Regions from separate parts of the Homo sapiens genome. Here region 1 is linked to region 2. Evidence: fine-mapped expression QTL. Tissue or cell type: transverse colon. Region 2 holds a variant in brackets; the other region holds the start of a gene. All regions are shown on one strand. Distances are from middle to middle.

The links. PIP is the estimated chance that this variant, and not a neighbour inherited with it, causes the effect.
Region 1: C19orf85 starts here. The variant in region 2 is fine-mapped to the expression of C19orf85 in transverse colon (GTEx, PIP 0.95).

The regions. Positions count from the first base shown.
Region 1 is chr19:55,460,406-55,468,478 of GRCh38, reverse strand. C19orf85 (chromosome 19 open reading frame 85) reads left to right here and starts at 3,728. Exons shown (of 2, transcript NM_001386794.1): 1 at 3,728-4,097; 2 at 4,512-5,478. The coding sequence starts at 3,925. The coding sequence ends at 5,007. ISOC2 (isochorismatase domain containing 2) reads left to right here and starts at 6,837. Exons shown (of 6, transcript NM_001136201.2): 1 at 6,837-6,967. RefSeq lists silencers at 257-386, 397-626 and enhancers at 3,285-4,007, 4,730-5,452.
Region 2 is chr19:55,290,993-55,299,065 of GRCh38, reverse strand. BRSK1 (BR serine/threonine kinase 1) reads right to left here. Exons shown (of 19, transcript NM_032430.2): 5 at 4,933-5,049; 6 at 4,819-4,852; 7 at 4,669-4,737. Among named protein-coding and RNA genes, the nearest start is that of BRSK1, 11 kb to the right of the region's middle. The variant C/T (reference allele first, on the strand shown) is at 3,874.

The DNA of each region.
Region 1 (8,073 bases), 170 kb before region 2:
GTTGTCCCTGGCTTCCTGGCCTGGCCCTGACACCCCCATCCAGATTGTAGGGGGATTGGAGGGTGGGGTCTCCACATTCCAGCTGTAGCAAGGCCTGCAAAGAAGGTTGGGTTAGACCCTGCCCCAAACCCTCTATGGTTCTCCATCATGCTTACCCTCATAGCCCAACCCTTGCCTGGCTCACAAAGCCCGGCAGGTCTGCTCCCCGCGCCCCCTCGGCTTCTCTGACTTCACCTCCTCCACTGCTCAGTAAAGCAAGGTGCTCAATAAATGTTTGTTGAATGACTAAATCCACCCCCAACACACACAGAATTTCAAGGGCTGGGATAGGGGAGAGGAGGCTGGGGAAGACCTTCCAGCACCTGGAAGTGCAGGTCCTCAACAAAGACCCCATGAAGCCAGCTCCCTGCTGTGGTTGATTGTTCTCAATGACAGGAGACAGGAGAGGGCCCCAAGTTCTCGGGCCGCACCCCTTGAGCCGGGCCGCCCAGCACCGGCCGGGTGGGCGCCCCCTGGTGGACAGTCCCGAGGCCGCAGCCTGCAGGCGGCCGCCCTGTGCATTGCTGGCCGGCCTGAGTGGGACAGAGCTGGCCGGCGGATGTTGCTCTTGGCCCCTGGACTGTGGAATGCAAATTTTGAAATAAGAGCTACCAGATGTGAATACACACGATAAAGTGTGTATCAAGGTAGCAAAGGTCATACCCCAGCCACGTGGCGGCGGGCCCCTTCCCGGCCCTCAGAGCCAATCCTTCCCTTCCCATCCTCCAGAGACCCAGGGGTCTTCTCCCTTCGGCCTCTTGCCAAGGGACCCTGGACCCTTCCCTCTGTACCTGAGACCTGGAGCAGAACAGGACAGGAAACCTTCACCTTCAGGCCACCCCCAATACCACAGGCGTGAACCAGACTCACGGACATCTTGAGGCAGGAGAATAGCAGAGAAATTCGGGGGGCGAAGGGGACCGTTGGACATAGGTTAGCTTAAGCAGAAGCAAAACGTGTCAAATGGCAGAAGCAGGACATGCGAAATAAGGGAGGAAGCAGTGAGTTGGAACATGCAGGATAAGGAAAATAAGCCAGAAGGACTTGCAGTAGCAGTTTGGCCACGAAAAATAAAGCTAAAGATGAGCAATTTGGTCAAAAGAGATAAAGAAAGATTAGGCAAGGATGAGCAACTAACTTACAAGAGATAAAGTGAGGTTAAGGAAGTGATGAAAAACATATAAAAGGCCATGAAATGTACGGCCGGGCGCGGTGGCTCACGCCTGTAATCCCGGCACTTTGGGAGGCCGAGGCGGGCGGATCATTTGAGGTCAGGAGTTCGAGACCAGCCTGGCCAACATGGTGAAACCCCACCTCTACTAAAAACACACAAAAGTTCGCCGGGCATGGTGGTACACGCCTGTGATCCCAGCTACTCTAGAGGTAGAAGCAGGAGAATCACTTGAACCCGGGAGGCGGAGGTTGCAGTGAGCTGAGATCGCACCACTGCACTCCAGCCTGGGCGACAGAGCAAGACTCCATCTCAAAAATAAAAAATAAAAAAAAAATTTAAAAAGAGTCCTTTAAAAAAAAAAGGCCATGAAATGTAACAAACTGGGGCTGATCTCATCTCGGAGAGCTCAGTCCGCTCTCCCCTCTGAGAGTGGAATACTGTGCTTCATAAACGTTTGCTCCTTTCCTTTGCTGTCTGTGCGCGTCTCATCCAATTCTTTGTTTTGGACACCAGGAGACTGGAACTGCACAGTACCATCCAGTAACAATCACACACGTGCACAAACACACACACACACACACACACACACCATGCCCTGGGGAAGACAGAGAGACAGAAACAGAAAAGCTGAGAGACAGGCAGTGAAGAGCATTCAGAGTCTAAAACATAAACACTGAGAGAAACTCCAGAGACAGTGAAAGAGACAGAGACAGGGAGAGGAACCGGAACACAAATGGGAGAGATGAAGTCAGAGAGACAATACAGAGGAGAGAGGCTGGGCACGGTGGCTCTCGCCTGTGACCGCAGCACTTTGGGAGGTCAAGGCAGGAGAATCACTTGAACCCAGAAGTTTGAGACCAGCCTGGGCAACATAGTGAGACCCCATCTCTACAAAAGAAAAAAATTAGCCAAGCATGGTGGCAGGTGCCTGTAATCCTAGCTTCTCAGGAGGCTGAGGTGGAAAGACCCCTTGAGCCCAAGAGGTCAAGGCTGCAGTGAGCCAGGATCACACCACTGCAGTGCATCCTGGGTGGCAGAGCCAGACTCTGTCTCTAAAAATAGATATATACATACATACACACATACATAGATGATAGATCCATAGATAGGCAGGTGATAGATAGATGATAGTTGAGAGAATTGTGGATAACCCAGGGATGGACAGAAAGCCAGGAGGAGCAGAAGAGGAACGAGCAAGGGTGGGCGAGATGGAGAGATAGCAATGGGGCTAGTGTGAGTCACAGACAGCTGGCAGGCAGAGGGACCAAGGGGCAGAGTACAAGAGGCTGTCTAGGAGGCTGGAGACCCTTGGAGACACCCGAGAGAAACATGGGAGGCCAATGGTGTCCCCAACACAGACACCAGCCACACCAGGCCCAGCAGCCCCACCTGTGCAGTGGTTCAGCACAGTGGTAGTGTTGAGCATGGCAGGGGTAGCAGTCAACGTGTACGTGCCATGGCTGGTGAGGGCACTGGGTGTCTGTCTGTCCTACTGCAGCTGGTCTCACCATGTCCTGCTGACAGGAAACTGGACCTCTGGCAACATCACTGGCTGCACTCAGCCCCAGCTCCCAATATGCCCCCACCTGCCTGCTGGCCCCCACCCTAGGCCTGGTAGGACCTCAACTGCTGACCTTGCCCATAGTGCTGCTGGCCAGTGAGCGGGCCTGGGAAGCAAACTCATGATGTCAGGTTTAAATCCCTGCTTCAGGCAGGAGAATCAGCGCGTGCGGTTCTAGGTACTGAGCCGTGGTCATTTGTTACATCAATTTCGGGAAACATCCTGGCTTCCCAGAGCAGACCCCCGAGGGTGGGGGTCCAAGCAGAGACTGAGGCTGTCACACCCGGTGCTCCCCTACCCAACCTGAGACCCAGGGTCCCCGCTCCGGCCAACACCCTTCCAGAAACAAGGGGACCCGGCCCAACCTCTGCCTCCCACAGACACCAGGGGTCCCAGTGCCTCAATAAAACACCCTGGGGGAGACTGCGCCCTGTTCTCCCGTCCCCTCCCGTCCTGCCACACCCTTCCCCCTCTCCTCCCTCACTCTGCTGCTCAGGATTCTATGAGCCCCAGGATTTCGGGGGTGACCCTCCAGGAGCCAACCCCTCCTGCTGGCTGGAGACCTCGGCCCGCACCAGCCCCTTTGGGAGCCTCGGTTTCCCCTCCTAAGGTGCTGGGCTGAGCAGAGGGAGGGAGGCACAGGTGTGTCTGAGGGTGGGTGGGCAGATGCAGCCCAGCTCCCCTCCCTCCCAGCCCCCTCCCCACGGCTCCAATTAAGGGTCCTCCACGCTCAATCGCTGCATTTGACTTACTGGCGGCCTCGCCTCCCGAACGAGGCCTTTGTTCCCTTAATTGGCCATCTCCAGGCACCATTCTCTGCCCCCCGCCGACGCACGCCAGGTCCATATCCCAGGTCCAACTATGCGCTAATTGGGCACTTAGAGGGCCCCAGAAAGCCCCCTCCCCTCCCTGTTCCCTGCCTTCCTATATTAGCCCCCACCTGCCGCTCCCTCAGACTTCAGGTCGGGCTCCTGGGAGGTGGGGACAGGGTTAGGGCACAGTGGGGAGGCCTTGGCCCAATTCCCAGCCCTGCCTCCTCCCCAGCCCGGGGTGCCTGGGCCTCCAGAGTCCCCTGCCCCTCCCTGCTCACAGATTTGGGGGGTGCTTTGGTCAGCAATATTGTGGGGAGTTACTCCAGACCACCCTGGCCATGCACCCCGGGGTCCCCGAAGGCCCTGGGGTCTCCGAGCCCGGCCCCCGGGAGCTGTGTGCCTTTGTGAGCGGGGCGGCCGCCCACATGCTGCGGGCCCTGCAGCCCCGGCGCACCCGGCCCCCCAAGAGGCGGCCCAACCACAGAAGGTTTCTGCACAACCAGATCTGCAGGTGAGGGGGCTGGTGGGGAAGGTGGGCACGGGACGGGGAAGAGGGGAAGGAGCAACCAGCACCCTTGGCTGGGGGAGACCAGGTACAGACAGAGAGGAGCAGCCCCCAGGGCTGGATGCCAGCAACAGTCAACGTGCATTTATTGAGTGCCTACTGTGTGCCAGGCCAGTTAGCAAAGCAGATAAAGTTCCTTGCTGTCGTGGAGGTTGTGTTTTCATGGGGGTGGCGGACGGTCAGGAATCACCAAAATAAATAACTAGCACGGTGTGATGCGACCACATAGGTGACCCTTGCAAATATGCTGGCCGGGGGTGGTGGCTCAAGCCTGCAATCCCAGCACCTTGAAAGGCCGAGGCAGGAGGATCGCTTGAGTTCAGGCGTTAGAGACCAGCCTGCTCACATCTGTCTTTACAGGCAGTTCACCAAGATTGAGGCTGCCACCCAGCGCCTGGCCCTCTCCATCCTGTCCCAGGAGGCACCTCCCCAGAGACCCTCGCTCCAAAAGCCACCCCCACCGCCTCCATCCCCCTTCCTGGGAGTGGCCTGTGCTGTGGCCCCCACTGAGGCTCCCCATGCCAGCGCCAGCCTGAGTCTCGCTGCCCTGGACACCTCTACCCTCGACCTCTTTGACAACATTGCGCTCACCCCAGAGTGTGCCTCAATGCCATGGGACCCCTCCTCTGGTTCTGATGCTCCCCTGCCAGCGCCGGGTCTGTCCCATCGCGACCTGGGCCAGCTGGACCTGAGGCAGGTCCCACATTTCTGCGGCCCCCTGCCCCTTCCCCAGCATGCCCTGGGGGAAGAGGCTGATCTCGTGGCTCCCGACTGGGGTTGGGTGGACTGCTGGGAGGTGCCTCGTGCCTGGGATTCTCAGGGGATCCCCGAGGGTTGGGGGACCAGCTCCCCATGAGGCCAATCACAACCCAGCCCAGAACCCAGGACAAGCCAGAGGCCCCTCCACGACGGCTCTACAGCCCTCTCCAGGAGCCCCCAACCTGTCCACTCCCTTCCTGGCAGCCCCTGGGAAAATAAACCAACCCAGACCCCCACTTCAGACCACTGCCTCAGGGGTCTCCTCCTGGGCCCAGGGGCCCCACCTCCACCTCTTCTTGCTTTCCTGCCTTCCCCCTTCCTTCTGCCTAGCCCCATCTGGGCATCCACCCCTCACTCTCACCCAGGCTCACCTCTGCCTAATGTCTGCTCTCCTGTCATTTATTCCCAAAGATGTATCGAGCGCCTACTATGGGCCAGGCCCAGGTCTAGGACTTGAGGATTCAGCTGTGAACGAGGCAGACGGGACCCCTGCCTCAGGGAGCTCCCTGTTCTGTGTGCATGTGTGTGTTTTGGCGGGGAACAGACAATAAAAGAGTATATCCATGCATTTTTCAAAAAGCAAGATTCATTTCCAATTCAGATTGGAGTTAGTGCTGAAAAGAAAATAAAACACAAGGCCGGGTGCGGCGGCTCACACCTGTAATCGCAGCACTCTGGGAGGCCAAGGCAGGCGGATCACTTGAGCCCAGGAGTTCAAAACCAGCCTGGGCAACAGAGTGAGACCTCCATCTTTACAAAAAAATTAAAAAATTAGTCAGGTGTGGTGGCGCATACCTGTGGTCCCAGCTACTCAGGAGGCTGAGGTGGGAGGATCGCTTGAGCCCGGGAGGTTGAGGCTGCAGCAAGCTGTGATCGTACCATGGTACTCCAGCCTGGGTGATAGAGCAATTTTTTTCTTTTTTTTGATGTTTCAAAAAAATTAAAAACAGCGACCTGATGGAAGGGCTACCTGACACCAGGTGGTCAGGAAAGGCTTTGAAAGCCTGGAAGGTTGGGCCATGGGGAGTCCTAGGATTCCAGGCTGAGGCAGCACACGTGCAAAGGCCCTGCGGTGGGACATTGAGGGAAGAGCAAGAGGAGACCCCTGTGGCTGGAGCGGAGTGAGCAGGGGGAGTGGTGAGAGGCGAGGTCTGCACGGACCAGGAAGGCCGACCATGAATTGGGAGGAGTTTGGATTTATTCCAAGACAGATAGGAAATTCTCTCTTTCTCTCAACCTCCATTTCCAAGCACAGAGTCTAAATTATTCTAAACACCACCCGAGGAGGCAGGTGCTGTACAGATGGGGAAACTGAGGCAGCACAGAGCGCAAAGGACAGGGGGGCGTCAAATTCCTCACTTGATCGCTCCCTCAGCCAGCCCCTTCCTGGAAAGTGCTTGGGTATCTTTGTAAGCCTCCGTTTCTTGAGAGAGGGCCAGGTTTCGAACCGCAGACATGCCTCTACTCTAGGTAAGACCCCTCTCTCTCTCTCCCGGCCTCGGCGGTCTGCTCTGTGCAATGGGGCCGGCCGAGACGCCCTCTCTCCAGCCAGAGTCTGAGCCTTCGGAGACCACCGCGCGACTCCGCCCCGTCGGCCGCCACTCACGCCCTCTACGGCTCTCCATTGGCAGAACGACCTGCTGCCCCGCCCCCACGGCGCCTTTGCGAGCTAATCATTTTCTTGAGACTGACAGCCTTGCCGGCACCGCCCCCCCTGGGGCGGGAGCAAAGCAGCTGCATATGCGGATTGGTTGAGAGGCAGGGGGCGGGGTGAGTTGGTGAGCGCCGATTGCGGGCAGAGGCAGTGGCACATGCGGATTGGCCGGAGAGAGCGGCGAGGCAGAGCATGATGAGTGTCGATTGGACGGCTGGGCCCAAGTGGGCGGAAAACGGACGGTGCAGGGGGTGGGCCACGTGTCCAGCCCTAACGAAACGGTAACCAGCCCTGGGAAGCCCGCAAGAGGCCTCAGCGGTGGCCGTCCGAGAGCCGAGAGGTGAGGGTGCCCCCGCCTCACCTGCAGAGGGGCCGTTCCGGGCTCGAACCCGGCACCTTCCGGGTAAGTCCTCTCTCGCTGCTGGCGCTATTTGGAGACCGACCTTACCGCCTAGCAGATGGGGAAACTGAGGCTCTGCCTGGGCGTCCCGGGCCAAGGTCACAGGACCAGAAGGAGGACTCCACCTGGCCCCGCCAGAATTGGCTGGCCAGAGATTGGAAGCGTCCCCGGGTCGCGCCTGCCGCCTCTGTAACAGCGCTGGGGGGTGGGCAGGTTTAATCCCCATTTCTCCGACGAGAAAACTGAGGCTAAGACAAAGAGAAACTTGCCCAAGGTCACACAGCCAGGAAGTCCGGGCTCCAAGGCCGGGTTTCCGAGACCGGGTGGGGAAATCAACGGCCCTACCCCGCCCCCTGTTGCCGCCCACCTCCAGCCACGCCCCCTTTGGCCTTGGGTACCCTCCACCCAGGCTGAATCTCTCCTCGTTCCGCAGGACACGCCCAACCCTCTCCAGCCCAGACCTCCCCTTCACATCTCTCTCTCTCACACACCCACCCTCACCCCAATTTTTCATCTCCCAAAAACCAGTTCCCCTCCCCGGGATCCCCTATGAATCTTCAGATCATGCCCCTCGCTCGACCAGAAACTGGGGGCCTTTCTCCCCGACTTTCCCCACCGTCCCAGCTGCCCCTTCCTGACTCTCCCCTGTCCCACTGGGCCCCAGCGCCGACCTCCTGCTCTCTGGCCTTTTGCCTCCAGTTCAACCGCACGGCGGGGGCCTGAAGCCATCTTTGTATTTTGCATTTTGAACACTTTTTCTGGAATAATACCACAAACGCAGAAAATCGAACGGTTTGCAAATACACAGCTTAAATAAATATTTATAAAGGGAGCACCCTGGTGTAAACAAGTATCCAAAGAAAAAAGTCAAACATGCGCCACATCCCAGGATCTCCCGCCGTCGTCGTTTCCATCACTGTGGTCCAAGGGCAGTCACTGTCCTGGCTTCTGACGCCATAGATCAGTTTTGCCGGGTTTTGGCTTTATGCCAACCCTTTATTGTATATAGTATTGACTAGACAACTTGTTGCACATTGTCCAGAATTCAGAAGAAACAGAATAGGACCCAGTGAAAAGGCTCCTACAGACTTCCCCGGTGCCTGGTTCAC
Region 2 (8,073 bases):
TCCTGCCTCAGCCTCCTGATTGGCCAGGCTGGTCTCGAACTCCTGACTTCGTGATCTGCCCGCCTCAGCCTCCTAAAGTGCTGGGATTACAGGCGTGAGCCACCGCACCCAGCTTAAAGACACCTTTCATATGTACTGTGTCATTGACGCGGAACTCATGGCCAGCAGCACTACAAGTCATTCCTGAACAAAGCATGCCCATCAGAGGGGCTTTCTCCAGAAGGGACATCACAGCCTCCCGCGCTTAGGAACACCAGACGGCACTTCAGAAGCACTTGGCTTCATGGCCATTTTAAACAACGAAATTGCCACCAACAACACAAAAATGTGAAAAACGTGACACGAAATAGGTGGTGAAAGGGGGATTGTTTACAGGATGAGAGCTGAAACAGGGTCACTTTGTTTGACCTCAGCCGGAAACCTGCACCTTGGGTGGGCGGCTCAGGTTTCCCCTGCTCTGGGCATGTCTGCCAATGACTGTGAAAGCACCTCCAGGACTATTTTGGGTTACAGATACATTTTGACAGGTAGGCAAATTTGCAAATATGGAATCTGCAAATGATGAGGAACTATTGGAACAAGAATAAACTACTAGGCCAGGTGCGGTGGCTCATGCCTGTAATCCCAGCACTTTGGAAGGCTGAGGTGGGCAGATCACTTGAGGTCAGGAGTTCAAGACCAGCCTGGCCAACATGGTGAAACCCCATCTCTACTAAAAATACAAAAATTAGCCAGAAATAACTTGAACCCAGGAGGTGGAGGTTGCCGCGAAGAAGATCAAGCCATTGCACTCCAGCCTGGGCTACAGAGCAAGACTAAGACTTCATCTCAAAAAAAAAAAAAAAAAAAAAAAAAAGAAGAAACAAAAAAAAAAGAATAAACTACTAATAATAATCATCAAGCATTGTGCCAGGGGCTTCACGTGCAGCATTTATTTAAACCCTCACAGTGGGCTGGGGGAAGTGGCTCACGCCTGTAATCCCAGCACTCTGGGAAGCTGAGGCGGGTGGATCACCTGAGGTCAGGAGTTCGAGACCAGCCTGGCCAACATGGAGAAACCCCATCTCTACTAAAAATACAAAAAAATTAGCCAGGCATGGTAGCAGGTGCCTGTAGTCCCAGCTACTTGGGAGGCTGAGGCAGGAGAATCTTGAACCTGGGAGGTGGAGGTTTCAGTGAGCCAAGATCGCACCATTGCACTCCAGCCTGGGCGACAAGAGCGAAACTCCGTCTCAAAATGAAAAAATAAATAGATAAAATAAAAATGAAAACAAAACCCTTACAATGATAGGTATGATGTGTATTTCCACGGTGCAGATGAGGACACTGAGGTAGGGTGACTGGCTCGCTCAGGGAGAGGGAGCAGGGATTGGAACTCGGCTGGATGGGCTCCAGAACCAGGCTTTTAGCCACCAAGTGAAGAAGGGCTGAGTTCTGAACATTCTTAGCTCGTCTCCAGAGCACCTCGGCTGCTCTCCCCATGGAGTGGTGAGCCCCAGGAAGCCAGCTTGGAGCTGGCCTCATTGCCCTTAGTATCCGTTATGTAGCCTGGTGGTTAAGAGACCAAGGACTGACCCCAGGCCTGCGGCTTATCAGCTGCGTGCCCGTGGGCCAGTCACTTCCCCTCCCTGGGACTGCTGAGGGAATTGTGTGAAATAACATGATCAGAACAGTGCCTGACATTAAAAAAACTGCTTATGGCTGGGCGTGGTGGCTCACACCTGTAATCCCAGCACTCCAGGAGGAAGAGGCGGGCGGAGGTCAAGTTCGAGACCAGCCTGGACAAAATGGTGAAACCCCATGTCTACTAAAAATACAAAAATTAGCCAGGCGTGGTGGCACATGCCTGTAGTCCCTGCTACTTGGGAGGCTGAGGCAGGAGAATCGCTTGAATCCAGGAGGTGGAGGTTGCAGTGAGCCGAGATGGCGCCACTACACTCCATCATGTGTGACAGAGCAAGAATCCGTCTCAAAAACAAACACACACAAACAAAAAAACTTATGTATTCTTTTTCTTTTCTACTTATTACTTATTTATTTATTTATTTTTGAGACGAGGTGTCACTCTGTCATCCAGGCTGGAGTTCGGTGGCATGATCATGGCTCACTACAGCCTTGACCTCCAGGGCTCAAGCAATCTTCCCACCTCAGCCTCCTGAGTAACTGGGACTACAGGCAGGTGCCACCATGCCTGGCTAATTTTTTTTTCATTTTTTTTGAGACGGAGTCTCGCTCTGTCGCCCAGGCTGGAGTGCAGTGGCATGATCTCGGCTCACTGCAAGCTCCGCCTCCCGGGTTCACACCATTCTCCTGCCTCAGCCTCCCGAGTAGCTGGGACTACAGGCGCCCGCCACCACTCCCGGCTAATTTTTTTTGTATTTTTAGTAGAGACGGGGTTTCACCACGTTAGCCAGGACGGTCTCGATTTCCTGACCTCGTGATCCGCCCACCTCGGCCTCCCAAAGTGCTGTGATTACAGGCGTGAGCCACCGCGCCCGGCAATGCCTGGCTACTTTCTTAACTTTCTTTTGAGATGGGGTCTTGCTTGCTATGTTGCCCAGGCTGGTCTTGAACTCCTGGGCTCAAGCAATCCTCCCACCTTGGCCTCCCAAAGTGCTGGGATTACTGGCGTGAGTCATTGCGCCCGGACAACTGCTGATTTATTCTCACTACAGGTGTTCACTGGGGACTTACATGTGTCAACTTTAGGTTTGCAAAGGCAAGCCAGCAAAATGAAATAAAACACACAAAGACAGATGCCCCAGACATCGGCCCTGACCTCAGGGAGTTGATGATACAGAAGGGAAGGGAGATGCCACTCAACGAATTAGGCAACAAAATGCACAGCGACAACTCTGATCGTTGCCAGGAAGAAGGGAGCCTACCACAGGGGGGTCTGACCTTACAGGAGTGGGGAGGAGGAGTGGGGGCAGGGGAAGCTTCCTGGAAATGTGACAACTGAGCAGAGAGCTTGAAGAAGTCTAGATATGAACTAGGTGAGCAACAAGGCTAATAGGTAGCAGAGTGTCCCAGGCAGAAAGGCCCTGTGGTAGGAGCAGGGCTGATAGCCTACGATCTGGCTATATATATATATTTTTAGATAGGGTCTCACTCTGTCGCCCAGGCTGGAGTGCAGTGACGCGATCTCAACTCATTGCAAACTCAACCTCCTGGGTTCAAGCGATTCTCCTGCCTCAGCCTCCTGAGTAGCTGGGACTACAGGCATGCGCCACCAAGCCCGGCTAGTTTTTGTATTTCTAGTAGAGATGGGGTTTCACCATGTTGGCCAGGCTGGTCTCAAACTTCTGGCCCCAGGTGATCTGCCTCCGCTCGGCCTCCTGAAGTGCTGGGATTACAGGTGTGAGCCTCCGTGCCCGGCCTGGTTATACTTGTTATTACAGTATCACAATGCCCTAGAATCAGCTGGTAAACAGTCATTGTATCAAGCCCTCCAGGTGCTCCTGGATGACTTGTTCCTTTCTGGGGTTCTTCCTGGAGACTATCCCATAGTTCTTTTATCTTTTTAACCCACAGTTCTGTGAATGAAAAGGTTAGCTCCCCACAGAGTGGGGGAACTCCAGGATCTTGGTCTGTTGGTTAATGTAGTATCTTTCCCATTACCAGTGAAATATTCGAGAGATGGGCTGGGTTCGGTGGCCTCACGCATGTAATCCCAACACTTTGGGAGACTGAGGTGGGCAGATCACTTGAGCCCAGGAGTTTGAGACCGACCAGGGAAACAAGGCGAAACCCTGTCTCTGTGAAAAATACAAAAATTAGCTGGGCGTGTTGGCAAGAGCCTATAATCCCAGCTGCTCGGGAGGCTGAGGCGGGAGGACTGCTTGAGCCTGGGAGATTGAGACTGCAGTGAGC[C/T]GTGATGGCGCCACTGCACTCCAGCCTGGGCGACAGAGAGAGATCCTCTCTCAAAAAATAAAAATAAAAATAAAAATAAAATAAATTCAGCTGCCGGGCACGATGGCTCATACTTGTAATCCCAGCATTCTGGGAGGCCGAGGAGGGTGGATCACTTGAGGCCAGGAGTTCGAAACCAACCTGGCCAACATGGTGAAACCCCGTCTCTACTAAAGATACAAAAATTAGCCAAGCATGGTGGCAGGTACCTGTAGTCCCAGCTAATCGGGAAGCTGAGGCAGGAGAATAGCTTGAACCCGGGCGGCGTAGGTTGCAGTGAGCCAAGACTGCACCACTGCACTCCAGCCTGGGCAACAGAGCAAGACTCTGTCTCAAAATACATAAATAAATAGGCCGGGTTCAGTGGCTCACACCTGGAATCCCAGCACTTTGGGAGGCAGAGGCAGGTGGATCACCTGAGGTCAGGAGTTGGAGACCAGCCTGGCCAATATGGCGAAACCCTGTCTCTACTAAAAATTCAAAAATTATCTGGAAGTGGTGGTGGGCGCCTGCAATCCCAGCTACTTGGGAGGCTGAGGCAGGAGAATTGCTTGAAGCTGGGAGGCAGAGGTTGCAGTGAGCTGAGATCACACCACTGCACTCCAGCCTAGGCGACGGGGCAAGACTCTGTCTCAAAATAAATAAATAAAATTCATAAATAAATTCAGGAGATGACCTGAGGATGGAAGGTACTGTCCTATGCTCCCACCAGGTGGGATTGATCTAGAAATGACAGGAGAGGTGAGGGCGCCTTACCACGAGCAGGGCGAAGAGGATGACTCCACAGCTCCACATGTCTGCCCGGCGGCCATCATATTTTTCCCCCTGGAAGGGAAGGCCAGTTGTGACTTCATCGCTCCTCACTGCTGCCTCCACCCCTCTCCCCTCTATCCGCCCCTCACTCACCTTAATCACCTCTGGACACGCATAATGGGGGGACCTGAGGGAGAGAGCTGATGTGAGCCTCCAGCCAGCTTCTAAACCCCTGCCCAGGGTCTCGGGAGCCCAGTCCCCACTCACCCGCAGCTGGTCTCCAGGAGGCTGTCCCCCACCTGCAGGGACGCCATGCCGAAGTCTGCAATGCGGATGTTGTTTTTCTCATCCAAAAGCAGGTTCTCGGGCTTTAGGTCTCTGTGGCTGAGACAGCCAGGTGGGACTCAGGCCTCTTCCTTCCTCCCAGGAGGCCCAGGCCCCACTGACTGGCTCTCACAGTGGAACACTTCTGCATACTTTTTGGATTTTTAGGGGATGAGAGACCATTTATTATCATTCATTAATTTTGGTCTTTTTAAAAATTTTTAATTTTTTATCATATGTATGTATGTATTTATTATTATTATTTTTGAGATGGAATCTCGCTCTGTCTCCCAGGCTGGAGTGCAGTGGCATGATCTCGGCTCACTGCAACCTCTGTCTCCTGGGTCCAAGTGATTCTCCTGCCTCAGCCTCCTGAGTAGCTGGGACTACAGGCCGCACCACCATGCCCAGCTAATTTTTGTATTTTTAGTAGAGACGGGGTTTCATTATGCTGGCCAGGCTGGTCTTGAGCTCCTGACCTCATGATCCGCCCGCCTTGGCCTCTCAAAGTGCTGGGATTACAGGTGTGAACCACAGCACCCAGCCTTATTTATTTATTTATTTATTTATTTATTGAGATGGAGTCTCATTCTATCACCCAGGCTGGAGTGCAGTGGCATGATCTCGGCTCACTGCAACCTCCGCATCCTGAGTTCAAGTGATTCTCCTGTTTCAGCCTCCTGAGTAGCTGGGATTGCAGGCATGTGCCACCACACCCAGCTAATTTTTGTATTTTTATTTTTTTTGAGACGAAGTCTCGCTCTGTTGCCTAGGCTGGAGTGCAATGGCGTGATCTCGGCTCACCACAACCTCCCGGGTTCAAGAAGTCCTGGGATTACAGGCATGAGCCACCGCGCCAGGCCTAATTTTTGTATTTTTAGTAGAGACAGAGTTTCACCATGTTGGCCAGGCTGGTCTTGAACTCCTGACCTCAGGTGATCCGCCTGCCTTGGCCTCCCAAAGTGCTGGAATTACAGGGGTGAGCCACCGCGCCCGGCCTATTTTGTTTTTTATTTTTAGAGATGGGCATTGCTTCTCGGCCTTTTGGCTAAGATCAAGTGTATGCTTAGAGATGGGGTCCCTTTCTGTTGCCCGGCCTGGAGTGCAGTACCACAGTCATAGCTCACTGCAGCCTTGACCTCCCCAGCTCAAGTGATCCTCTGGCCTTAGCCTCTTGAGTAGCTGGAGCCACAGGCGTGCATCACCATGTCTGGCTTTGGAAACTTTCCTTTTTTTTTTTTTTGAGACAGAGTCTCACTCTGTCGACCAGGCTGCAGTGCAGTGGCACGATTACGGCTCACTGCAACCTCCGTCTCCTGGGCTCAAGCAATTCTCCTGCCTCAGCCTCCCGAGTAGCTGGGATTATAGGCATGTGCCACCACGCCCAGCTAATTTTTGTATTTTCAGTAGAGACAGGGTTTCACCATGTTGGCCAGGCTGGTCTCGAACTCTTCACGTCAGGTAATCCACCTGCCTCGGCCTCCCAAAATGCTGGGATTACAGGCGTGAGCCACCGCGCCCGGCCTGGAAACTTTTTATAATAGACAATCACAAACGTGCCCAAAACTGGAGAGAAAGTAAGAGGAAGCCTCACTTACCCATCGCCCAGCTTCATCCATGATCATCTTAGGGCCAATCTGATCTCATCTCTGTCCCTTACATACTCCTCCCCAACCCAAATTAGTTTGTAGGACATCCCAGATGTCATATTAGTTTATCTGTAAGTATTTGAATATGTACAAAGTGAGCTATTTTGAGGTAAAGCTGATATGCAGCTGGTTCTTAAAATCCTTGGTTCCTGTCTTGGGACCTTCCCACCCTTGAACCAAACTCCTCAAGGTTTAAGGGTTGGTGTCTGGGGAGAGAGGGAGTGTAGGATTCTGCAGTTTTCATTTGGCCTGGTCATTAACTGGGTCAAACTTGTTAAATACGTTGAATATCTCCCCCTAGAGGCCAGGGTTTCAATATCAGGGTTTTGACAATCTTGTCAACAGGAAGGTGTGGAAAATTTAAACAGGGCCGGGTGCGGTGGCTCAAGCCTGTCATCCCAGTACTTCAGGAGGCCGAGGTGGGTGGATCACCTGAGGTCAGGAGTTCGAGACCAGCCTGGCCAACATGGTGAAACCCCATCTCTACTAAAAATACAAAAAATTAGCCGGGCATGGTGGCGGGTGCCTGTAGTCCCAGGTACTCGGAAGGTTGAGACAGGAGAATCGCTCGAACCTGGGAGGTGGAGGTTGCAGTGAGCTGAGATCGTGCCATTGCACTCCAGGATGGGTGACAGCGAGACTCCGTCTCAAAAAATAAAAAAAGACAAAAACCGAAAATTTAAGTAGGTGGCCTTTTTATCATCAAGCTTTACCCAAAGTCTGAGTCCCTCTACCGTGATCCCCACCCCATCTCCAAAAACACATCTTAGTGAGAGAGATGCGCAAATGAAGGAGGCTAAAAGATGAAGGCATTCATTTTGTACCTGAACAGTTAGAAAAACGTTGCACATTTAATATCTGATTTGGAGGCTAAAGTCAATTCAATGAAAAAAATAATAACTTTTCTTTTTTTTGAGACAGGGTCTCACTCTGTTGCCTCACTGCAGCCTCAACCTCCTGGGCTCAAGCAATCCTCCTACCACAGCTTCCCAAGTAGCTGGGACCACGGGCACACGCCACCACATCCAGCTAATTATTTTTATTTTTTGGAGAGATGGGGGGAATCTCACTTTGTTGCCCAGGCTGGTCTCGAACTCCTGAGCTCAGGTGATCTGCCCGCCTTGGCCTCCCAAAGTGCTGGGATTACAGGCATGTGCTACCATGCCCAGCCAAAAAAAAAATCTTTAAAAGTGGACACATAGGCCAGGCGCAGTGGCTCATGCCTTGAGCCCAGGAGTTTGAGACAAGCCTGGGCAACATAGCAAGACCCTGTCTCAATAACTAAACTAAACTAAAAATAAATGAATAAATAAATAACCCTTACTCAACCCTTACTTCACACCATATACAAAAATTAACTTGAAATGGATGCCAGACCTAAATGCAAGAGCTATAACTATACAACTTCTAGAAAATATACAGAAGACCTTAGTGA